Homo sapiens: one gene and its partners. The protein of the gene in region 5 purifies or fractionates together with the protein of the main gene of each other region. This does not show direct contact. Each region holds a gene or a part of one and is shown on either strand. Other genes may lie near its edges.

What was found.
Region 1: the proteins of BRD8 (region 5) and MAP7 purify together in Homo sapiens (affinity purification with mass spectrometry, with the first as the bait; one large-scale study listed by BioGRID). This does not show direct contact.
Region 2: the proteins of BRD8 (region 5) and E2F3 purify together in Homo sapiens (co-immunoprecipitation; one study listed by IntAct). This does not show direct contact.
Region 3: the proteins of BRD8 (region 5) and ACTL7A purify together in Homo sapiens (affinity purification with mass spectrometry, with the first as the bait; one large-scale study listed by BioGRID). This does not show direct contact.
Region 4: the proteins of BRD8 (region 5) and SDF4 purify together in Homo sapiens (affinity purification with mass spectrometry, with the first as the bait; one large-scale study listed by BioGRID). This does not show direct contact.
Region 6: the proteins of BRD8 (region 5) and IYD purify together in Homo sapiens (affinity purification with mass spectrometry, with the first as the bait; one large-scale study listed by BioGRID). This does not show direct contact.
Region 7: the proteins of BRD8 (region 5) and RTL9 purify together in Homo sapiens (affinity purification with mass spectrometry, with the first as the bait; one large-scale study listed by BioGRID). This does not show direct contact.

The regions. Positions count from the first base shown.
Region 1 is NC_000006.12:136,344,423-136,347,922, reverse strand, and holds part of MAP7 (ensconsin), read left to right. Parts: intron 1-1,843; coding exon 1,844-2,067; intron 2,068-3,500. UniProt on the Homo sapiens protein: Microtubule-stabilizing protein that may play an important role during reorganization of microtubules during polarization and differentiation of epithelial cells. Associates with microtubules in a dynamic manner.
Region 2 is NC_000006.12:20,491,547-20,494,214, reverse strand, and holds the end of E2F3 (transcription factor E2F3), read right to left. Parts: 3' UTR 501-2,668; downstream 1-500.
Region 3 is NC_000009.12:108,861,091-108,864,256, forward strand, and holds ACTL7A (actin-like protein 7A), read left to right. Parts: upstream 1-1,175; 5' UTR 1,176-1,232; coding exon 1,233-2,540; 3' UTR 2,541-2,666; downstream 2,667-3,166. UniProt on the Homo sapiens protein: Essential for normal spermatogenesis and male fertility. Required for normal sperm head morphology, acroplaxome formation, acrosome attachment, and acrosome granule stability.
Region 4 is NC_000001.11:1,219,217-1,222,001, reverse strand, and holds part of SDF4 (45 kDa calcium-binding protein isoform 2 precursor), read left to right. Parts: intron 1-1,271; coding exon of another isoform or gene 1,272-1,303; exon of another isoform or gene 1,304-2,785. UniProt on the Homo sapiens protein: May regulate calcium-dependent activities in the endoplasmic reticulum lumen or post-ER compartment. Isoform 5 may be involved in the exocytosis of zymogens by pancreatic acini.
Region 5 is NC_000005.10:138,144,131-138,147,630, reverse strand, and holds part of BRD8 (bromodomain-containing protein 8), read left to right. Parts: intron 1-1,752; coding exon 1,753-1,842; intron 1,843-2,385; coding exon 2,386-2,454; intron 2,455-3,500. UniProt on the Homo sapiens protein: May act as a coactivator during transcriptional activation by hormone-activated nuclear receptors (NR). Isoform 2 stimulates transcriptional activation by AR/DHTR, ESR1/NR3A1, RXRA/NR2B1 and THRB/ERBA2.
Region 6 is NC_000006.12:150,396,512-150,400,011, forward strand, and holds part of IYD (iodotyrosine deiodinase 1), read left to right. Parts: intron 1-1,543; coding exon 1,544-1,726; 3' UTR 1,727-3,500. UniProt on the Homo sapiens protein: Catalyzes the dehalogenation of halotyrosines such as 3-bromo-L-tyrosine, 3-chloro-L-tyrosine, 3-iodo-L-tyrosine and 3,5-diiodo-L-tyrosine.
Region 7 is NC_000023.11:110,357,393-110,361,647, forward strand, and holds the start of RTL9 (retrotransposon Gag-like protein 9), read left to right. Parts: upstream 1-1,455; 5' UTR 1,456-1,524; intron 1,525-4,255.

The DNA of each region.
Region 1 (3,500 bases), on a different chromosome or scaffold from region 5:
ATCATCACACTGTATAATATTTCAGATTATTTTACAAATAATGTTTTCAGTGTATTCTGCAATGCCTTGTGAGACACTTAGGACAGGCATCTTCATTTTTTCCGTAAAAAAGGAAGGTTTAATAATTTTAAAAATACACAAATATTCAAATCAGAAATGCTTTAGTATGTGTTCCAAAGTCAATACTTCTCACTCAGTAGAGAAAGTAAACTATTTTGACTGGGCGTGGTGGCTCATGGCTGTAATCCCAGCACTTTGGGAGGCCGATGGGGGCAGATCACTCGAGGCCAGGAGTTCGAGACCATCCTGGCCAACACGAAGAAACCCTTTCTCTACTAAAAATACAAAAATTAGCTAGGCATGGTGGCTTGCCCCTGTAGTCCCAGCTATTTGGGAGGCTGAGACTCAGGAACCACTTTAACCCAGGAGGCAGAAGTTGGAGTGAGCTGAGACTGTACCACTGCACTCCAGCCTGGGCAACAGAGTGAGACCCTTCTCAAAAAAGGAAAAAGAAAGTAAACTATTTATTCAATCAGGCAAAAAAAAAGCAAAGTGTTAAAAAGCAATAGAAAGGTTGGATTTACATTAGCATTGTTTTACAATTTGAGAAGACAAACTGACTTGCTAACAATGTTCAAGCAGTTGGTATTACTGAGACTAAGGTTAATTTGTTGAGCATTGAACAAGTTTTGAAGCTTGCACACATATGTATATGCTGCAATGAAATAAAATGAATGGTAAAATTAGTTTAGCACTCATTTGATGCATAGGCATTATTTGGCTACATTGTAAAGCATAATAATAAGCCTATAACAGAGAGTGGTAATCTAAGACAAACCATAGAAGATTAAGTATTTGGGGCCAATTAAGTATATCTCAAAAATAAATCCAAGATATTAAGCATGAATTCATAAGGATCAAGATGAGGTCAGAGGCAGATTTAAGGGGCAAAGATAAGAAGATCGGTCTTCAAAAATTTACATATGAAATTATGCAAGGGCTTTAGGAGGCTGGAATATCTAGAAAGTGTGCGAAATGGCTTAATGAGAAAAACACAGGACCAGAGATTAAGAGATCGTGCATTTAGCCTCAACTATCTCTCAGTAGTTGTGTGACTTTGTGCAAATCATTTACTCCCCCCTCCAAATTATAATCCCCTCATCTTTGAGGCAAAGGTCCTCATAAGTGGTACTCTATCAGATGAATATAAAAATGCCTGCAGCAGAAATCATTAAATGTGTAGAACTGCTGCTGATGATGATTTATTTCTATTAATGATGATCTGTTGTAATTGATAAATTGTTCTATTTGATAATTTTCATAACAAAATGACAGATTTAAAATTTTTTTGTTGTTGTTTAGAGACAGGGTCTTACTCCATAGCCCAGGCTGGAATGCAGTGGTGCCATCATAGCTCACTGAAGCCTCAAACTCCTGAGCTCAAGTGATCCTCCCACCTCGACTGCCAGAGTAGCTTGGACTACTGGTGCGTGCCACCACACACAGCTAATTTTTTTCTTTTGTAGAGACGGGGGTCTTGCTATGTTTACCAGGCTAGTCTTGAACTCCTGGCCTTGAGCAGTCCTCCCATCTCGGCCTCCCAAAGCGCTAGGATTACAGGCATGAGCCACTGTGCCTGACCTAGATTTTTTAAAATAAGAATTTAAGGTACAAATACACCACAATTTATTATTTTTGTTAGTAATGATGTGACTCACCAGTCTGATTTTTTTAATTGTAGATTTATAAAATTATTCATTATAAAACATTTTGGTTTTCCTAATAATGTGTTTTCCAGTTTTAAGACTAACTTATTTCTATTTTTATTTTTCAAATTCCTTAGCACTCCCGATTTGGAAAAACAACCAAATGAAAATGGTGTATCTGTTCAGAATGAAAATTTTGAAGAAATTATAAACTTACCCATTGGATCTAAACCATCCAGATTAGATGTCACCAACAGTGAGAGCCCAGAAATTCCTTTGAATCCAATTTTGGCCTTTGATGATGAAGGGACACTTGGGCCCCTGCCTCAGGTAGATGGTGTTCAGACACAGCAGACTGCAGGTAAGCTTGCCTCCAACTCCCTTCTGTAGTCATCAGAAATATCTGACACCCAGGAGGACACGAACTGCTGCCTTCTACAGTATGATTGTGGTAACACTTTGTTCTTCAAAGGACCAAGTAAGCCACAGTGGAAGAGATTGTGCCTGGCTCATAGAAATTGAATTTTGAGTTGGATTGGACAACTTCTAAGGCCTCTCCTATTCTCTCAGTCAGTGCAGAAGTCCAGTCCGCAGCACCCAGTGGGTGTCTGTCAGCCTCTCTGCACAGAGCAGCACCCATTACCCGACATCATGCATGCTCAGAATATGCTTTGTAGAAAGACAGGGCTGTCTCCCCATAATTTTGGACCATCCGGCCTAGTGCTGCCCACTAGAGAAAGATCTGAGTTTTTTCCATCTTTCTGAGGTCTTCATGTATTTGAAGACTGCCATCATGTTCTCCCACCATTTTTCTCTTATTTGGGTTTGGCAACCTGGGTAATAAATTATTGTCCTTTCAAAATGTGACATGATGGATAGTTACGATTTAGGTGATGAAACCAGTACTCACACTGAGTCTAAAGATCTTAACTTGTTAAATGATTTTGTTGCTGTTGAAACTGCCTGTGACTTTCTTATACAATGTCTCTTTGACCCACACTTGACCTGAAGTCTTTGTGCAAAAAGAACAATCAGGACCCAAAGAAAGAAGACATAATATCAAATATTACTAACTCAGTGGTCATAGCAGCTCAGCAACGCAATCCCATCAGTCTCAGGAATTAGCAAGATAATCTGTGCTCCCTGTCTCTTCAAACCTGTTTCAATTTTGTTGACTTCTCTTCCCTGAAGATGACTGTCATGTATTGACCAGCATCTCTTTATATTTCTACAAAAAGAACTGGCCAAATTCAGGATAACTAAATGGAGACAATACAGAATTATTTGTGGGCAAATTGTTTTGCCTTCTAGATTCAATCAGTGAATCTGTAATAAATCAACTTTTAATTCGGTGTGATAACCAATGTGAGCCACCCATCCAAATGAAGCTACTCTTCTTTTCTCCTCTAGTGTACTGACCTTGGAAGTGGAACCTCACTTTAGTGAACTCCACTTTTCTAGGATTTGAAGGGAGGTTGTAAGGGCCCTCCCCTGTCTGACTTTCTGATTCTTAAGCCTTTGGGAACAATCCGACTAATGGTATGTTGATGGAAACATGCCCAGTGCAGCTTCCTACTCATGTTACAGATTTACAGGAAGGGAAAGAACTTCCAGATGATTTATCAACATTTATTTAACCTCCAACATATGTTTAGAACCCTAAGCATCAGATACTGAGGATACAAGAGAAATGAATGTTTAAACCCCTAACCGAGAAAAGTACAATCTGTGTATGCCACTTGGAAAAATGAAGGCTGTGGCCTAAGCTGATGTAAAGAAAAGAACATATGTTTC
Region 2 (2,668 bases), on a different chromosome or scaffold from region 5:
AAATATTTGCTGAGTGTTCTGAGTCCCAAATACCGTCTAAGGCAAACGATGTTTTAAGCTTTTGTTTAGCCTTTCTCCTTAACTTGTTTAAGAATGTTTTAAAAAATTCAATTAATAGGCTGGGCGCGGTGGCTCATGCCTGTAATCCCAGCACTTTGGGAGGCCGAGGCAGGCGGATCACTTGAGGTCAGGAGTTCGAGACCAGCCTGGCCAACATGGTGAAACTCCGTCTCTACTCAAAATACAAAAATTAGCCAGTCGTGGTGGCGGGTGTCTGTAGTCCCAGCTACTCAGGAGGCTGAGGCAGGTGAATCACTTGATCCCGGGAGGTGGAGGTTGCAGTGAACCAAGATTGTGCCACTGCACTCCAGCCTGGGTGAGAGTGATTGACTCTGCCTCAAAAAACAAAACAAAAAAAAAAAAAAGAAAAAGAAAATGAAAAAAATTCAATTAATAGAGGAGCACAAGATAATATTAAAGAAAACCCATCCACAAGCCTGAACTCTTAAAAAAAATCATTTTATTGATCCTTTACCATACAAAATTTATTCAAATTACACCCATTTGAAGTGGTAAGATCACAGCTAGAGAACAGGTCACCCTGTAACAAATCTATTTACAAAATCCATCATAAAAGCTTTTTTTTGTTTTTTTTTACATTATATTACATATTTTCTTTTTTAAACTAGCATACAACACAAAGCTAAACTGATTAGTAGTTTGCCTACTCCCAATTTTGGGAGAAATACTTCCTTTTTACAAAATCACGTACCCCGTAGGAAAAGAAATTCCCACACCCTGACAATTGCCACCCGACTTACTCTGCAAGCCATCTTCCTTCATATCCCTCCTTCTCATACACACGAGTTGTCATGCACACACTGAATTCTTATTTTCTTTTTCCTGAAAGCTTAAGCTTTAAATACTGCAATTTTATTTACAGATCTACACGTACAACAAAAATGAAAACAAGAGCCACAACAAAGAACAGAAAAACAAAAACAAAATAACACTCTTAAAAAATTACAAAGCAGCTAGAAAGTATTCTGGCAGTGTTTACAAATTAATTGCTATTTTTGTACAAAATTGCTAAATAATGAAAATGTGAGTAGACTACATATCAACTTAAATAAAACGATTGCTATGCACAACTCTGTACATATAAACACACTCCTAACACTGTTTGACAGCTCATGTGTTGCCCTTTATACATTTTATTTTCTAAGGCTCACGCAGTCATAATTTGCACACTTGTAACTTTTAGCCATTTCGTGTGTGAGCTTTAATAGCAGCAACTCAATGGTACCAGGAAACCTGCATACTTAGTACTTAAAGTAACGCAAATACTGTAGTACTAACCCACTTTGTGTGCCGGATACTAAGTCAAAAAGAAAATTACTTAATGCAAACAAAATACAGTATGGACATCTAATTAATGTACACCAGTTAAACCCAGTAACTGGAAAAAAATCTTATGCATGAAGGAACTTTTAAGACTTATTAGTATTCCTTTCATTTTAAAAACAATAAATACGGCATTACATTATGAAAAAATTCAACAAAACACACAACAATCTAGCCAGGTGAGCTCAGTCTTTAGACTTTGGAAAAAATCAGCTTTGTGCAGCTGGCAAAGAGAATTACACAAAGCTGGAAGCAGAGGCAGCTAACCAGATGAGATAAATATGGGAAATGGGGAAAAGCTTGGCATAAATGGTTTCCCATACAGGAAAAAACCCCACAGTGCATTTCCAGTAGGCACTTAACACAAAGCTCCCTCTCCCTCCCCCACCCCAATGCTTCATCTAGGACCACACCGACATTTTGTACCAAGTCCAGTGTGTGTGAGGGGAGGAGGCCAGGGATGGAGGCTGAAGAAGAAAAAAAGGAAGATAGTCTGCACCTTTGTTTTTCTTCCCAAACATACACCCACGCATACCCACACAAAGAGTTTAAAGTGCTGGTGTCATCTGTCTTGACCCCACCACCACTTTGCATATTGTGGAAATCTACCTGGAGTAAACTGGCTGGGGCTCTTGTGGTTTTTTGTGTGTTTTTTTTTTTTCCTAAGGGATATTTTCAATTCAATTAAACATATGAGTTGAGTGCCTACTATGTGCCTACCATTGGGTCAGGCACATAGCATTTCAATTTAACTGTTCGTTTCGAGGTTTGTTCTTTATCTGACTCCCTCATTCCCGCAGTCCTTAGCATCCAAGGAATGGACCGGAGATACTACGCCATATTCCCAGTGGGAGATGGCCGCTGCCACCTGCCCGAGGGAAAGCCATTCTTGGACATAACTGGTAGGATTTGCAGCTGACACAAAGCCTCCAACTTGGGACACCATTCCTGAAGAGTAAAGCGGGAGACACCCTGGCATTGTTTTGCTTCATTTTTTACGTCCCCGACTTCCCTTGGTCCAACTTATTCCTTCATAGAGGAAGGGGAACGGGGTCTGGCCAGAACTATTCCAGCCCCCGACACAGGGCTGCTCCCTGTTCCTGCCAGCTTAAGGAAATGCCACTCACACAATGGGGATGTCTTTCTCCCTAGAGGTCTCTCCATCTGACCCCATCCTGAGAAGTGGTCTCCCTGAGTGCGGTGTAAGAGAGCCCTTTCCCCTGTCACAGGGGCCCGGGAAGCCCAAGGATGGAGGGACCCATGC
Region 3 (3,166 bases), on a different chromosome or scaffold from region 5:
TGGCCAAACAGCCTAAGAGTTGCACGCTAGGTCCCATCAAGCTGTGTCCCAGCACATCCTGGGGAGGAAGCCACAGTCAGGAGAGCTTGGCTACTCCTGGTTGGATATCCTTGGGTGAGCTATGCACCTAAAAGCCTCAGTGTTGTCAGTGGGATTTTGTAGAGTCTAATTTCACTGTCTAGCCAATGACCCTGATGAAGGCACAGTAAGTGTACACATGTATATCCAAAAATAATTCCCCTTAAGGTTGTTCTAAGGGTCACCCTTAGTGCCCTTAGTCACCATAGCAGCAAAGGATTCCCACTAACATCTAAATCAGATGGTGTCAGTGCTCTGTGCCAAATCCTCTAGTGCTTTCTGACCTTACCCACGATCCTTGCATTGGCCTATGAGGCCTACCATGAGCTGCTTGCCTTCCCCCACCCCATCTCATCTACTTTTCCTTACTCCTTCTATGCCAGCCACACTTTTCTTCCTGCTCCTCCTTTAACTCGAGAGGTCGGCAAACTTTTTAAGGGTCAGTCAGTATTTACTTTCTTTCAGCTTTTTGGGCAATGCAGTCTTCAATGCTGTGACTCAGCTCTACTGTTGTACTGCAATGGCAGTCACGGACAATACGTACATGAATGAGCACGGCTGTATTCCTATCCAACAAGCCGGGGACCGGATTGGACTGCAGCCTGCTGACCCCTGATCTAACTCTTCAGTCACACATCTGCCTCCAGTCCTCTGCACCTGCTGCTCCCCTGACATACACATGGCTCTCTCCCTCACCTCCTGCAGGTCTTCATTCAAATGTCACCCTCTCAGGAAGCCCTGCCCAGGCCACACTAGCACTGCCACCCTGCTTTTGCTCTTAACGCTCATTTTGGTTATTGTCTGTCACCCCCACCCGCCACCGACTAGAATAAGGGATTTTGTCTGTTTTTTTCACCAGCGAATTCCCAGCTGCCTTGTATATAGCAGACATTCAAGAAATATTAATTAATTGAATAAATCAGTCTTGTTACGAAATTTAGGAAAAGGGGAGCCATTTCAAAAACAATATCCCAAATGTACCCTAACACAGGATAAGGGTTTGCAATATCTAGAAAGCCCAGGTCACCAGATTACATCATAATTAGTGATGTCACTGTTGGGAAAATTCTCAGGGTATCCTCTGATGTAGGCCTTTCAGGCCTTGAATCCAGTGGGATTGAGAACTTTCTAAGAGTGGTGCGGCTCTTGACAACATGTGGGCTCCACCAGCAGCAATCATGGGGGATGGGCCCACCAAGAAGGTGGGCAACCAGGCCCCCCTGCAGACACAGGCCCTCCAGACTGCCTCTTTAAGGGATGGCCCGGCGAAGCGGGCCGTGTGGGTCCGCCATACGAGTTCAGAGCCACAAGAACCTACTGAATCAAAGGCAGCCAAGGAGAGGCCCAAGCAGGAGGTGACCAAAGCAGTGGTCGTGGACCTGGGCACTGGCTACTGTAAATGTGGCTTTGCCGGCCTGCCAAGACCCACCCACAAGATCTCAACAACGGTGGGCAAGCCCTACATGGAGACCGCCAAGACTGGGGATAATCGCAAGGAGACATTCGTGGGGCAGGAACTCAACAACACAAACGTTCATCTCAAGCTGGTTAACCCTCTGCGACATGGCATCATCGTGGACTGGGATACAGTGCAGGATATCTGGGAATATCTCTTCCGACAAGAGATGAAGATCGCCCCGGAGGAGCATGCGGTCTTGGTTTCAGACCCGCCACTGAGCCCACACACCAACAGAGAGAAATATGCTGAAATGCTGTTTGAAGCCTTCAACACCCCTGCAATGCACATCGCCTACCAGTCGCGCCTGTCCATGTACTCCTATGGAAGGACCTCCGGCCTGGTGGTGGAGGTGGGCCATGGCGTGTCCTACGTGGTCCCCATCTACGAGGGTTATCCTTTGCCCAGCATCACCGGAAGGCTGGACTACGCGGGCTCTGACCTGACAGCCTACCTGCTGGGCCTGCTGAACAGTGCGGGGAACGAATTCACCCAGGACCAGATGGGCATCGTGGAGGACATCAAGAAGAAATGCTGCTTTGTGGCCCTGGATCCCATTGAGGAGAAGAAAGTCCCTCTCAGTGAGCATACGATCCGCTACGTGCTGCCGGATGGGAAGGAGATTCAGCTGTGCCAGGAACGGTTCCTCTGCTCGGAGATGTTCTTCAAGCCATCTCTCATCAAGTCCATGCAGCTGGGCCTCCACACCCAAACCGTGTCCTGCCTTAACAAGTGTGACATCGCCCTCAAACGGGACCTCATGGGGAACATCCTGCTCTGCGGGGGCAGCACGATGCTCAGTGGCTTCCCTAACCGTCTGCAGAAGGAGCTAAGCAGCATGTGTCCCAATGACACCCCGCAGGTAAACGTGCTGCCTGAAAGAGACAGTGCCGTGTGGACCGGTGGCTCCATCCTGGCCTCACTTCAGGGTTTCCAACCATTGTGGGTCCACCGCTTTGAGTACGAGGAACACGGGCCTTTCTTCCTCTACAGAAGGTGCTTCTGAACAGCGACGAGGATGGACACTGCACTGGCAGTGCCTACCCTCGACAGGGTGAGCGCACTCCTACACACAGGGGGTGGAGCCGGCGCTTATTCCTGTAGCATTAAACACCCCTCATATGCCCCTCCACAGTGTGTTTCTCTACTTCCTGACTTCATAAGAAACAACTTCACACGTGCAGCGTCTGCCTTAAAATATACATTTCCCAAAACAAAAGCAGGAGTAGGGGGAGGATGAACAAAAAAGGGCATGCATTGTATGTGGATTGCTTAAACATTCACTTGTTCTAAAATTATGCTGCCCCTTATTTTGTGCATTCCCCGCTTTAGGAACTACTTTACGGTTAAACTCTGCTTGGAAGGGGGAGTGCAATGAAGATTAGAGGGTAAATGCTGTTGGGGCATATAAGCAGTTCCCTTTCCATAAATGCCAATAGGAAGTATGCTGTAACAGTGCAAACTCCCACAAAGCATCAGTGTCCATTTCATACTTCATCAACAACCCTGAGGGACTGGAAAGAGCTGGCAAAGCTGTCTGAGCCCTGCTTTAACAGGAGTTTCTTTTAGTTCCAACAGTCATTTATGTCTCAGTACCAGTTCTTACTAAGCCATCACAGCGACTGGCTGCTG
Region 4 (2,785 bases), on a different chromosome or scaffold from region 5:
ACACATTTCCTCACCAGAGTCTCAAGGCAAACCACCTCTTCTTTCTTTTTTCATGAGACGGTCTCACTCTGCTACCCAGCCTGCAGTGCAGTGGTGCAGTCTCGGCTCCCTGCAGCTGTACCTTCCAGGGCTCAGGCGATCCTCCTACCTCAGAAGCTGGGACCACAGGCACCATCACCGCGCCTGGCTAATTTTTGTATTTTTTGTACGGATAGATTCTGCCGTGTTGGCCGGGTTGGTCTCAAACTCTTGGACTTAAGTCATCCGCCTACTGCAGTCTCCCAAAGTGCTGGGATTATAGGCGTGAGCCACTGCGCCTAGTCTTAGCCTCTTTCTTTTTTTAATTTTTAATTTTTAATTGTTTAAGAGTGAGGGCCTCACTGTTGCCCAGGCTGGAGTGCAGTGGTGCGATCTCAGCTCACCTGTAGCCTCCACATCCTGGGCTCAATCTATCCTCCTTGGAGGACAGAAAAATAAAGGTGTAAGATACGTTCCTGCCAGGAACGGCCCATATCATGTGACCAGCCCCCATGGGGGCGGCCTCCTGAGTGACTGGGACCACCAGTGTGTGCCACCATGCCCAGCTGATTCAAAAACATATATTTTGTAGACACAAGGTCTCCCCATGTTGCCTAGGTAGGTCTCAAACTCTTGGATTTCAGAGGGTTCAAGTGACCCGCTCGGCCTCCCCCCGTCCTGGGGTTGCAGGCGCGAGTGACCCGCCTGCCTTGGCCTCTCCCCATCCTGGGGTTGCAGGCATGAGCCCCTGTGCCTGGCCTTGACCTTCTAGAATGACGCGGAGACTTTTGAGCCTGTTGGCTCTGCCTGCTCTTTTCCCAGTTCACGTACTCTTATCTGGAGTTTGGTCCTGTCCGTTCTAAATCCTGCAAATTGGACATTAAAAAAACTAAAAGTAAGAGGATCTCCCTGTGTTGCCCAGGCTGGTCTCAAAGTCCTGGGCTAAAGGGATCTGCCTGCCGCAGCCTCCCAGCATGCCGGGATTACAGGCACAAGCCCCAGTGCCCGGCCAAATTGGACGTTATTACTTCCTTTCCAAAAGAGTGGTTTACATTTTCCTCCCCACACACGGTTCGTGCCTCCACCCCGGTCCCGCGTTCCCTGCTGTCCTGACTGCGTCTTTAAGCTTCATCCCGTTGGTCCGGCCTGTTGGCGATGTGCTTGGGGCAGGAGGCCTTGCCCGTGCCCGCCCCCCAACTCTGATTGTGTCTGTCTTTCCTTGGTGCCACTTTATTTGGGTCTTTTCTGCCCAGGACATGGCCCACCTGGACCTAGAGCTCTGTGACATTTCTGTGAAGCCTCCGTCTACCTTTGGGACTCAGCAGAGGTGTGTTTAGAATTCACTCTGCGTTTTGGGGGTCCCCATGCATGCTGAGGTGCTGTTCCCTGCCCACCCGTGTCCGATCCGTCTTGGCCTCCCCGACCTCAGGGTGCCTAGGACCCCCCGACCTCTTTGGGTATTTGGTTTCTGGCTCAGGAAGAGCAGCTGCCGGGTCCTGGAGGAGGGGCCTGGGAAGCGCTGGCAGGCGTCACTCCTGCGACCTCCCACCCCTCCCTGCATGGCTCCTGCGAGGGTCACCGCGTGAGTCCGGGGGCTGCTGTCCTCGCGCCTCAGACCTGATTCTGGGGACCGCGGTGAAGGCGTGGCAGGCGGGCATCACTCCCTTCCCCCGCCTCCATCGCTGCCTCTCTCTGGGTCTGCGTCCTCTTCTCACAGGGACAGCAGTCGTTGACTCTCCCTGATCCAGGAGGGTCTCTCCAGATCCTTCCCTAACAGCAGAGGCCCGGCTCGTGGGGAGGGACTGGGACTCAAGGCTTCTTCACCAGCCTGAGGTTGGTGCTGGGGCTCGGCGGCGGCTGTGAGAATCCTGTGCTGGAGAAAGCGTCTCTCGGCCGGCCTGTCTGGGGCGTCTGTGCCTCTCCTGGATGGGTCTCAGTTTGGCCCCGTCCATCCATCCCAGGAGCTGCGGTGGAGCAGACAGGGAGGGGTGCCCCAGGAACCACAGCCCCGTCACTCCTGTCTTCCTTTAAGTGAACCGGTCGTGTAGATGGAGGTTGTTCAGAAAGGGATAAGATGGGACGGCAGCTGGGCCTCATCCCGCAGTGAGCGCGACGCAGAGGCTGCCGGGCTTGTGGCAGGGGCTTCGGCCAGGGCAGAGTCGGGCCTCACGTGCAGGGGGCTGAGTGTGGGCCTCAACACTGGACTTGGCCACTGACTGCAGTGAGCCCCAAGATGGGGCAGGAGGTGGTGTTTCTGTCCTGGAGACCCAGGGTGGCTTGGGTCCTTGGGATGTGTGGGGACCTCGGGGTGAGGGCCCGTTGGGGCCGGGTGGGCACGGCAGGAGAGCGGGGGCCACACACCCAGAGGCAGTGCCGTGTCCCGGCTGGGAGGGTTCCTGGGAAGCTCTGCTCAGCCCCAGTCTCAGTCATTTCTAGAAACTGTGTTTTCCTCCCTGTGACGTCACACGTGAAGGAAACGGAAAAGGGCAGTGAGTCCTTCGCCCCGCGGCGCCGTGCGCACGTCAGCCTTCAGGGTGATTCCGCTCCTCCAGAGGGGCAGGCGCGGGTGTGGGGGGTGGGGCCCAGGCCCATCCTGAGGGGTCCCAGGCATGAGGGGCTCTGAGCTGTGTCCTGGGGTGGTCTGGGCCATGGGGAGGTTCTGGATCATGTCTTGAGAGGTCTGGGCTGTGTGGGGGGTCCAGGCCATGTCCTGGGGGTCTGGGCTGTGTCTGTGGGGAGTCAGGGCCATCCATGTATTGGGGGTCTG
Region 5 (3,500 bases):
GAAAAACAAAGTTGTTTTTATCTGTGACTCCTGGCCTCAAGTGATTCTCCTGCCTCAGCCTTTCAAAGTGCTGAGATTATAGGCATGAGCCACTACGTCCAGCAAAGTTATTTTTGTTATGGTAATAAATAAATTGTTCTTTTTCCAGCCTGTGTCAGATCCATCTGTTGAGAGAATATAGTATGAACTGTTTTTTTTTTCTTCAGTATATCCCAGATCCACCCAGTTGTCTGTGGAAAGGTAAAACTAATAATTATTCTAGTGTTTTTTTGTTTAAGATATACAGCTGAACCATGCATATATTTATATATGAATATATATATATATATATTTTTTGAAGAGCAGATTTCTTTTTTTTCTCATAGAGACAGGGTCTTGCTTTGTTGCCCAAGCTGGGTCTTGAACTCCTGGCTTCAAGCAATCCCACCTCAGCCTCCCAAAGTACTGGGATTATAAGCCTGAGCCACTGTGCCCAGCCTAGATTTCAATTTTTGGTACACAAATAGGATACAGTTTAAAATGTAGATTGGTGAGGAATGCCTTCATTTGCTTTTCTTTAACTCCTTAAGTATGAGCAATAGAGTGCAGAGATGACATACTGTGACTGTACAAACAGCAGGAAATCTGCAATCTGAGACTTTTTTTTTTTTTTTTTTTTTTTGAGACGGAGTTTCGCTCGGTCGCCCAGGCTGCAGTGCAGTGGCGTGATCTCGGCTCACTGCAAGCTCTGCCTCCTAGGTTCACACCATTCTCCTGCCTCAGCCTCCCAAGTAGCTGGGACTACAGGCACCCGCCACCACGCCCAGCTAATTTTTTGTGTATTTTTAGTAGAAACGGGGTTTCACCGTGTTAGCCAGGATGGTCTCAATCTCCTGACCTTGTGATCCGCCTGCCTCGGCCTCCCAAAGTGCTGGGATTACAGGCGTGAGCCACCACACCGGGCCCAATCTGAGACATCTTATCTCATGACAGTTCATAGTCTTGGATGGTAAATTCCACATTCTTACCTTACAATTTAGATTAAATATGAAATCTTTATTAGAAAGCAGTAGATATCCAGCCTGGGCAACGTAGTGGGACCTTGTCTCTACAACAAATACAGAAATTAGCTGCAGGGCGTGGTGGCATGTGCCTGGAGTCCCAGCTACTTGGGAGGCTGAGGCAGGAGGATCGCTTGAGCCCAGCAGGTTGAGGCTGCAGTAAGCCACGATCACACTACTGCACTCCAGCCTGGGCAACAGAGCAAGACCCTGTCTCAAAAAAAAAAAAAATTGGCTGGGCATGGTGGTTCATGCCTGTAATCCCAGCACTTTGGGAGGCTGAGGCGGGTGGATCACTTAAGGCCAGGAGTTTGAGACCAGCCTGGCCAACATGGCAAAACCCCGTCTCTATGGAAAATACAAAAATTAGTTGGGTGTGGTGGTATGCAACTTTAGTCCCAGCTACTTGGGAGGCTGAGGCAGGAGAATCGCTGGAACCCGGGAGGCAGAGGTTGCAGTGAGCTGAGATCATGCCACTGCACTCCAGCCTGGGCAACAGAGCAAGACTCTGTCTCAGAAAAATAAAATTAAAAAATTAAAAGAGAAAACAATAGATATTAATAACTAAGTCTGCTTGGCCAGATAAGGGGAGATAAAAAGCTTCAGATATTAATTAGGAGCATGTCTTAAGAAAACCTCATTACCCACCTGGGGGAGATAGAATATTATTTGTGAAGTTACTGTCTCTTTTCTTCATGTTTTATCCTCATAGGACTGATCTAAGCCAGGATGACCCTGTTCAGGATCATTTGCTATTTAAGAAGACTCTCCTGCCAGTCTGGAAGATGATTGCCAGTCACAGGTAGGTCTCCAAAGTGGTAATAGGATTATGTTCAGAGCTGAAGCAGTAATACATATTGGGGTTTAAGCATAAAAGGAGATATGTTCATCCCTCAAATGAGCCATAGTTGAAAGGTAGATTCTGTATCTAAGCCCGATTTATCCCAAAGTACCCACAGCTGCTTTCACAAGTCTGTACAAGAAATAGTTGCTGTGCCATTTGAGTTGCCTCTAGAAATTGGTTCCTACTACATGATAAAATTTATATTTAAAATGTATATTCTTCTTTTCAATCTGGTGGATTCTCTTTTTTCACAGAGACAGGGCCTTGGGAACTTTGAACAAATTTCTGAGCCCTAAATCAGTATATTGTAATAATAGTGAAATATTTTATAGTTTTGTGTTTTTTTTAACTCTCTGGCAAGAGGGAACAAATAGATTTTTTCCTAATGGTGCTGACAGTCTGCATTCCCCTAAAGGAAGTCTACTAAGAACTGAGCTACTCTTCTCCTTCAGAGTGCCTTGCCAGGGTTTCTTTATCCTCTCTGGGTTTGTCCCTTAACAGGTTCAGCAGTCCATTTCTGAAGCCTGTGTCAGAAAGGCAGGCCCCAGGGTACAAGGATGTGGTGAAAAGGTCAGTGAAAAAGGGGTCAAGAAAGGTTGGTTGCTTTTATATCTGCCTTTTCATTTTTTATTTCCCATCTGTTAGATTATTTTTATAACTTACAAACTCAAGATATGTTTCATAGCCAAACAAGTTTATAAAGTTATGATGAGCTCAGTATCATATCTTCATTTAAGAAGGAATGCAGGGAACAAAAGGATGATATAGGCTTTTTATTTTGTACTATTGACTTTTAAGTAATATGATCCATTCTATATATATATATATTTTTTTTTTTTTTTTTTTTTGACAGGGTCTCACTCTGTTGCCCAGGCTGGAGTGCAGTGGTACAGTCTTGGCTCACTGCAACATCCTCTTCCCAGGCTCAGCTATTCTCCAGCCTCAGCCTCCCAAGTAGCTAAGACTACAAGCATGAGCCATCACGTCCGGCTAATATTTGTATTTTTTGTAGAAACGGAGCTTTGCCATGTTGCCCAGGCTGGTCTTGAACTCCTGAGCTCAAGCAATCCACCTGCCTAGGCCTTCCAAAGGCTGGGATTATAGGTGTGAGCCTTGGTGTCCAGCCTGATCATTAATTATAATCTTAAATTAGCCTTTGGTTGTTTTTGACACTATTCTTTTGGAGCAAAACTTTAAAAGGAACCCTGTATTTATTCAGTTAGTTATAGGTATAGTAAGGCACAGATGTCGATCCAAATGGAAGTTATGAACATTGGTTGATTGTAGTATTGTGTCCGGAATTGGTTCCTTCCGGTGGGTTCTTGGTCTCGCTGACTTCAGGAATGAAGCTGCAGACTCTCGTGGTGTTACAGTTCTTAAAGATGGTGTGTCCAGAGTTTGTTCCTTCGGATGTTCAGATGTGTCCGGAGTTTCTTCCTCCCGGTGGGTTTGTGGTCTCGCTGAGTTCAGGAGTGAAGCTGCAGACCTTCACAGCGAGTGTTACAGCTCTTAAAGGTGGCGCCTCTGGAGTTGTTCGTTCCTCCCAGTGGGTTGGTGGTCTCGCTGGCTTCAGGAGTGAAGCTGCAGACCTTGGCGGTGAGTGTTACAGCTCTTAA
Region 6 (3,500 bases), on a different chromosome or scaffold from region 5:
AAGCTATGTCTTGAAAAGGACCAAGATATAAAATGACACTAAATTAAGGTGTAAATATTTTCTCAAAAAAGTTTAAGACTTGGCCAGGTGCGGTGGCTCACGCCTCTAATCCCAGCACTTTGGGAGGCCAAGGCGGGCGGATCACGAGGTCAGGAGATCGAGACCATCCTGGCTAACATGGTGAAACCCGGCCTTTACTAAAAATACAAAAAATGAGCCAGGCGTGGTGGCGGGCGCCTGTAGTCCCAGCTACTCGGGAGGCTGAGGCAGGAGAATGGCGTGAACCTGGGAGGCGGAGCTTGCAGTGAGCGGAGATCCCGCCACTGCACTCCAGCCTGGGCGACAGAGCGAGACTCCGTCTCAAAAAAAAAAAAAAAAAATTAAGATTTATCCATTGCAAGTTCAAATACTATGTGAAGATATGATCAAGGAGAAGAAACGCCATGATAAAGTAGAGCTAATGACAGAAAGAAGAAATCAGTTAGGTTTTTTGATGCATGTATTCTTGAGAACAGTCTCTCAGGTATTGTGAAATCTTCGTTAATCAAGGTATAGTATATGATGATGTTGTATAAGAGACCTTCAGCAAGAAACTATATTGAGTCACTCTAGATTCATATATGTGCATGTGTGCATGTATCTATATATGGGTTCATATATATATGGGTTCATAAATATATATGGGTTCAAATGCCAATATTAGAGTTATTGATAACAAATCATAGATTCCAGGCAGATCACTGGAGTTCAGGAAAGAATATTTAGCAGGAAAATTGGCCAGGTATGGTGGCTCACACTTGTAATCCCAGCACTTTGGGAGGCTGAGACGGGCAGATCACTTAAGCTCAGGAGTTTGAGACAAACCTGGGCAATATGGCAAAACCCCATCTCTATAAATAAATACAAAATATAGCCAGGCATGGTGGTGCATGCCTATAGTCTCAGCTACTTAGCAGACTGAGGTGGGAGGATGGCTTGAGCCCAGGAGGCAGAGGTTACAGTGAGCCGAGATCATGCCACTGCACTCCAGCCTGGGTGATAGAGCCATACTTTGTCTCAAAAAAAAAACAAAAAACAAAACCGAATATGTATATTTAGTAGGAAAATTATGTCGCATTTGGGCTAGGACACTGCTTTGGTGGACTCTCTTATCATTTGGTTCTTGTACCAGGACACAGACCAACCCCTTAGCTAAAAGGAACTCCCTGTTGTTTTTGCCTTTCCTCTACTGTAGTTGGATTCCTACAGTATTTTTCTGTAAAATAACCATTCCTATTTCTTAAGCATCAATGAAAAATAATAGTATTTTTCTTCTTCCAAAAGCTTGCCACTGCTTGGTTAAAAGAAGGGAGGGGGTGGGGAGATTGATGGGGGCAGGGAGGTTCACGATGCCATTACTTGAGCTGGCAGCCTCTTTGCTGCCCAACTTCAGGGAAATGATAGGAAGAGCAGGTATAATCAGGACAAGAAGGTCCCCAGGTTAGAGGGAGAGCAGTCATTCTGCCTGCTGACTTTAAAATGCTTTCTTGTCCTCTTATTTTAGAATGCAGGTCTGGTGACTGTCACTACCACTCCTCTCAACTGTGGCCCTCGACTGAGGGTGCTCCTGGGCCGCCCCGCACATGAAAAGCTGCTGATGCTGCTCCCCGTGGGGTACCCCAGCAAGGAGGCCACGGTGCCTGACCTCAAGCGCAAACCTCTGGACCAGATCATGGTGACAGTGTAGGCAGGGCCCCCCAAGGGAGTGGCAGGGAGATGGCGCCCCTGCTTTTCCCTGAGCCTCTCGCCTGCTCCTCTTGGGTCTCTTGGCTGCTCTTTCTCCAGGTGTCAGGTCCCCTCATTGCTCTTCTCAGGTGGCCACACTATGTCAAGAAGCCTCTCCACACTCTGTGGCACTTCCAGTCCCATAAATCCTGTTTCTTATCCACTTTGGAAATGCATGAACACTTTACAAAGAACATGCCCGGGTTTTTACATTTTAAAAGTTATTCTAGACAATCACTATTGGCTTTTTTCTTTTATTTTTAAAAAACTCACATAGAGGAGACAATCAGAAATTTACCATAGTCCCAAGAATTCAGCTACATGATGACTCGAATTTAAATTTAGATTAATCAAATGGTCTCCTGTTCTCTGATTTCTGGTGGCTTTTAGACACTAATTTTTGAGAACTACTTTTTTTTTTTTACCAAACTTCAGGGACACTCTGCTAGTTTTGAATAAGTAACCATCAAAGTTACTAAAACATGGCCAGGCGCAGTGGCTCATGCCTGTAATCCCAGCACTTTGGGAGGCCGAGGTGGGCAGATTGCCTGAGCTCAAGAGTTCGAGACCAGCCTGGCCAACATGGTGAAACCCCATCTCTACTAAAAATACAAAAAATTAGCTGGGCATGCACTTGTAATTCCAGCTACTCAGGAGGCTGAGGCAAGAGAACTGCTTGAATCCGGGAGGTAGAGATTGCAGTGAGTCAAGATGCTGAGATGCCACCACTGCACTCCAGCCTGGGCAACAGAGCGAGAACCTGTCTCAAAAAAAACAAAAACAAAGTTACTAAAATGTCACCTTCACAGAACAGGACAGGGTACCCTTGGGTCGCACGGGCCTGGCTGGCATGTAAACGGTCAGTTGCACTGCCTAGTGGTTTGGTAGATCTGACTTGTAAGCAGTTCATAGAAGCTGCTCAATACTCAAGAATCTTGCAAGACAGTTATTAAACATTCATAGCTTGAAATTGCCCATGGTGGGAGAGTTTACATCACAACCACTACAAATCAGCACTTGCTTTCTTCTTCTTAAAGAGAGCTGCTTACCATACATAGCACCCACAGTGTCTCCCTTCTCTTCTACCCCAACCCCTGAAACACACTGACCCCTATTCTCCAGATGACAGCACAGCTGTTTGGGACTGATAGGGTCACAGTTGCCAGGTTGGGAATGCTAGATGTAGTCTTCACCCATCACCTTCTGTCGTCCTCCCAGGGGTGTCATATTTACAGAGGCAAACTCTTACAGCTTGGATGATTTCTCATCAAGCAACTCTACTCACCTCTTTTTCCCCTTTCCCTGTGCGTTTCTTCTTCTTGTCCTCATTTTCCTTGAGAAAACTCTCTCTATAAAAAATTTCCATAGAGTATGTGGCTGATAAACAACAGAAATTTGTTTCTCACAGTTCTGGAGGCTGGAAGTCCAAGGTCGGGGTGCCCTCATGGTCAGGTGCTGGTGAGGACCCTGATCTGGGTTGCAGACTGCTGACTTCTTATTGTGTCCTCGTGGTAGAAAGAGGGTTAGAGCCTCTGGCATGCCTTTTATAAGGGTACTAATCCCATCATGAGGCCCCGTCCTTATGACCTCATCACCTCCCAAAGGACCCCCTCCTAATACCATCACATTGGGGGTTAGGGTTTCAACATATGAATTGCGGGGGACACAAACATTCCGTCCATGGCACCTACTTCATAGGGTTTGGCATGCTGCTCGGTACATGGTTAACATTCATA
Region 7 (4,255 bases), on a different chromosome or scaffold from region 5:
GATTAGAACCATTTGAGAGACTGTTTCCTTGATATGAAATGCAAGCACACTCATTAGTGATCATGGTCAAGACCAAATGGCCAGTTTCTGCCAGCAAACGATTAACTTTGATGACAGATGTGTAAACCAAAAATAATTAAATTATTTGGTAATCATTCTTCCTTGCTGTAGGCTTTAAATAGTATTAGATCTTTGGGCATGAAATATATTTAATCCAGTTGTTAGATATAGTTACATTTTCAAAGCTGGATGAATCTTGTATTCTCACTGAGTACAGTTCTCCAACTGATGTGTCAAGGATGATGCTTGTATAACTATAGGAGGGAAATCCTCTGTGATTAATGCATGCAGGAGAAAATACTATGCTCTTCCCTGTGGGTGCAGGGCATGTTTCTACATACCCACATTGTGTGGGAAGCAGAGTGGTTATACTTGCCCTTCTTGGATTTTTTCTCAAGGCAAGACCCTGGCCTCATCCTCCAAATGCATGTTCCAGTCCCTCTCTCACATCAGGGGTGTTTACGAGACTGACTTGGATAACTTTTGCAAAATATACTTGCCTGGCCCTCTGTCTCCCCATTGGACATTTGTTTCATGAGGAGTATCATTTCTAGGGTAAAAGCAAGGATTTTGAAAAAAAATTCTTTGCCATTTTATCAGAAGAATTATATTTAATGAAATTAAAAATAAAAATAGGTGATTTTGATGTTCACCCTAGGCTAAGAGGACCACTGCTGTCTTTGAGGCATTTACAGACATATGGAAATCTGAAGCATACTTAGAGTTGCGGGTTCTTTCTCTGTAATTCTTTTAAACTGGGCATAAACCTCAAAGGGAGTGTAAAATGCAGAGTGTTGTCAACTTATCACACCAAGAATATTTTTTTGCACCTTTTTAGTTTGGAAGGGTCAAATTGAGATGACAGAGGAATAGTGGATAAGAGCTATAGTGCTATTAAATTACATTCTAGAGTTGGGAAAATCGAGACCCATAATCCTAGGAATTATTAATGATAAGAGCTAACACTTTCTGAGTGCTTACCACATGCCAGGCCCTATACTGAATGCATCATGTCCATTTTCTCATTTGATCCTGACAACCACCTGTGAGGCCTCATTTTGAAGACAAGCAAGCTGAGGCTCAGACCTTGGATTTGTCCAAGGTCACTCAGTTGGTCATTTACAGAGCCCTGATTCAAACTCTCTTTTGCTTGATTACAAAGCCATTGCTCTAAAAGATTAGATTATACTGTCTGTATTTGCTTCTGGGAGCTTATGGAATTCACTCCTATCTGTTCTCACAAGGAACTCTATTGGGTTTTGAAAAAGGCTAAAGAATTGAAAAGAAACTTTGTAGGCTGGGAAACATAGTGTCCTTTGAGCAGTGAGATAGGCTAAGCTCAGAGGACTGGGCTCTGGAATGTGGAAAGGAGACGTGCCCACTGGAGAGCAAGTCAGAACTTTCGTGAGCCCTGCTCCAGGTCCCAGGAGAAAGTGCCAGCCATGAGGACTGGAGTATTGCCTGGTAAGGAGAAGATTATTATTTTATCTAACACGTTCTTCTATAACGCTCTATATGCTAGGCACTGGTCTGCACTGCTCTAAGTACTTTATAAGTATTAACTCCTTTACATCTTATAACACTTCCCTGGAAATAGGCATTATTATTGCCCCCATAATACATATGAGTAAACTGAAGTTCAGAGATGTTAAATAACTTGTTCAAGGTCACATAGCTGGTTAAGTGCCAGAGCCAGGCTTTGAACCTAGGCAGTCTGGATCTAGTGGCTGTGTTATACTGCTTCGCAACAGAAACTTGATTTTTCTTTCTTCTGTGTTTATCATCCTTTCTCAATCACTCCTGGGCAAGTCTACTTTGCTAGCAAATTTCCCTTACCCCTTTGGCTTTTTTTTCACCCATGAACCCTCTAATGTTTTCTGCAGCTTCTTTGAGCTCATTCTTTATCTTCCACACTGCCTCTTTTGGCATTACTCATGAACGACATGCTCTTTTCATCTGCCAAATATTTTTTCCATAAATTATCCCATCTCAACTTGGGAAGTCACAATGGGAAGTATTGTTCCTATTTTGTGAATGAGGCAACTAAGGCAAGCAACTTTCCTGAAGTCTCACACAACCATCTAGTGGCAAAGTGCACTAGAATCCAGATTCTCTGATTCTGAATCTAATGTTCTTGTCCATTGCACCATCTGATGGAATTTAACTATCTATTCATTAATTAATTTATTCATTAATATTGTAAAAATATACTGAGTGTCTTACTGTATGGTAAGGCCCTGGGTGCAAAAGTCGGTATAAAAATTGTTGCTCTTAAGCAACAGACAACACAGAGAGATAAGGTCTCACCATAAAAAGTTAAATAGCAGCACATATACTAAGTGCCAAATGAGTGGTCTGGTCACATCATACAAGAATTTTGAGGTTGGATATGTAGCATCAAAGACTGCTTTATCAGAAAGGTGAGACTTGAACTTGGCATAGAAGGGTACTTAGAACTTAGAGAAGAGAATGGAGCAGCACTTTCCAAACTCTGGGAATGGTGTGCATTAAAGCAGTCCTTCACAACCTTTATTGTGTCATGGCATGCAGAGAAAAGCATAGTATTTGTAAAGCACACTAGGCTGAATGGAGGAAGCAGTTTGACATCTAGAGGCAAGCATTCTAGGAGTTTCAACAGCACTGTCTCTGGGCTCAGTTGAGGACAGAGAAGAAATCTCATAGCCTCAGACACTTGTAATATGTTTGGGAAGGTCTGCACTAGGTATTGGGGGCACACTGTGGTCATGGTGGGTCTAAAGACCACTGACAAGCCCACAGGGATGAAATGAGGGGAATTTCCAGAGAAGCCATAGTAGATACCATTGGAAAGAAAAGTTATGGGCAAATGATGAAGGGCTTTTGAATTTTATTCTGTGGACCTACAGAATAGGTAGGCAAAATATGCATAGCACTGTTTTAGAAAGATTCCACTGGTTTTCATATGGGAGATTAACTAGAGGGAAGAAGAGTAGTCAAGAGGCTATTACCATTGTCCAGGTGGGAGGTGATGTTATCTTGAACTAGATTGATAGTAATAGAGACAGAGAATGGTGGACAGAATTGAGTTATATTTTGGAGGTAAAAATGTCAGGGTTTGGTAATAGAATTGCATAATGGAGAGTAGAAGAAAGGGAGGTGACAAGGAGGATTTCAAATTTTCAAGTTTAAGCAAATGCTTATGAATAGTGATGCCATTCTTTAAGATAGAGAGCCCAGGAGAAGTAGAAAGATTTTTTTGGAGGGGAAGGACAAATGAGATGATGAGTTTCAAGTTGACATTTGGAGGCAAGGAAACCAGTTAGGAGGCTATTGTAAAAGCCAAGTAAGACAAGGTGAGATCCTGGACTACAATGGTAGCAGTGGGAATGGAAGGAAAATGGTGAATTGAGAGACATTATACAGGAAGAATTGATAGGATTTTGTCACGGACTGACTTCTGGAGTTGAAAGGTAGAGGAAGGCTTGAAGCCTAAGATATCTTCTGTCCTTTATCTTCTTAGTGATGCTCCGATCTTCGTGGCTTAATATACTATCTATTTGCTGATGAGTCACAAATTTGTATCTCCATACTTTTATGCCCAATTGCCTGCTGGACATATCAACTTGCATGCCTAATAGGTATCTCCAACTTACCATGTTCAAAACTGCCCCTGCCCACAACCCCCAACAAAACCTGCTGCACTCACAAAACCTGCTCCTCACAGTCTTCCCCGTCTCCCTAAATACCAATTTCATTCTTCCGGTTGCTCAGGCGGAAGACCTAGGAATCAATCTTGATTTTTCCCTCTTTCATATCCTACATTTATTTGATCAGCAAATCTTATTGGTTCTACCTTCAGAATATATCTAGAATCTGACCACTTTTTCATTGCTACTATCCTGGTTTATGTCACAATGATCTGCTTCCTGGATTATATTGCACTAGCCTCTCAACTGTTCTCCTTGCTTCTGTTCTTGCCACCATCACTCAAGCCTATTATTCTCTCACTGTTTTTTGGAACCAGGATAATTTTATTATGTGAATGTCAGATCATGTCACTCCTCTGCTCAAAACTCCTCCAATGGCTTCCCATCTGACACTCAGTAACAACAAAACCCCTTATAATGGCCCATAATGCTGTATGCAACCCAGATATTGACATACTCCTGTCCTTCAGGTGATGGATCAAATATCCCACTTGGTAAAATCTTCTCTG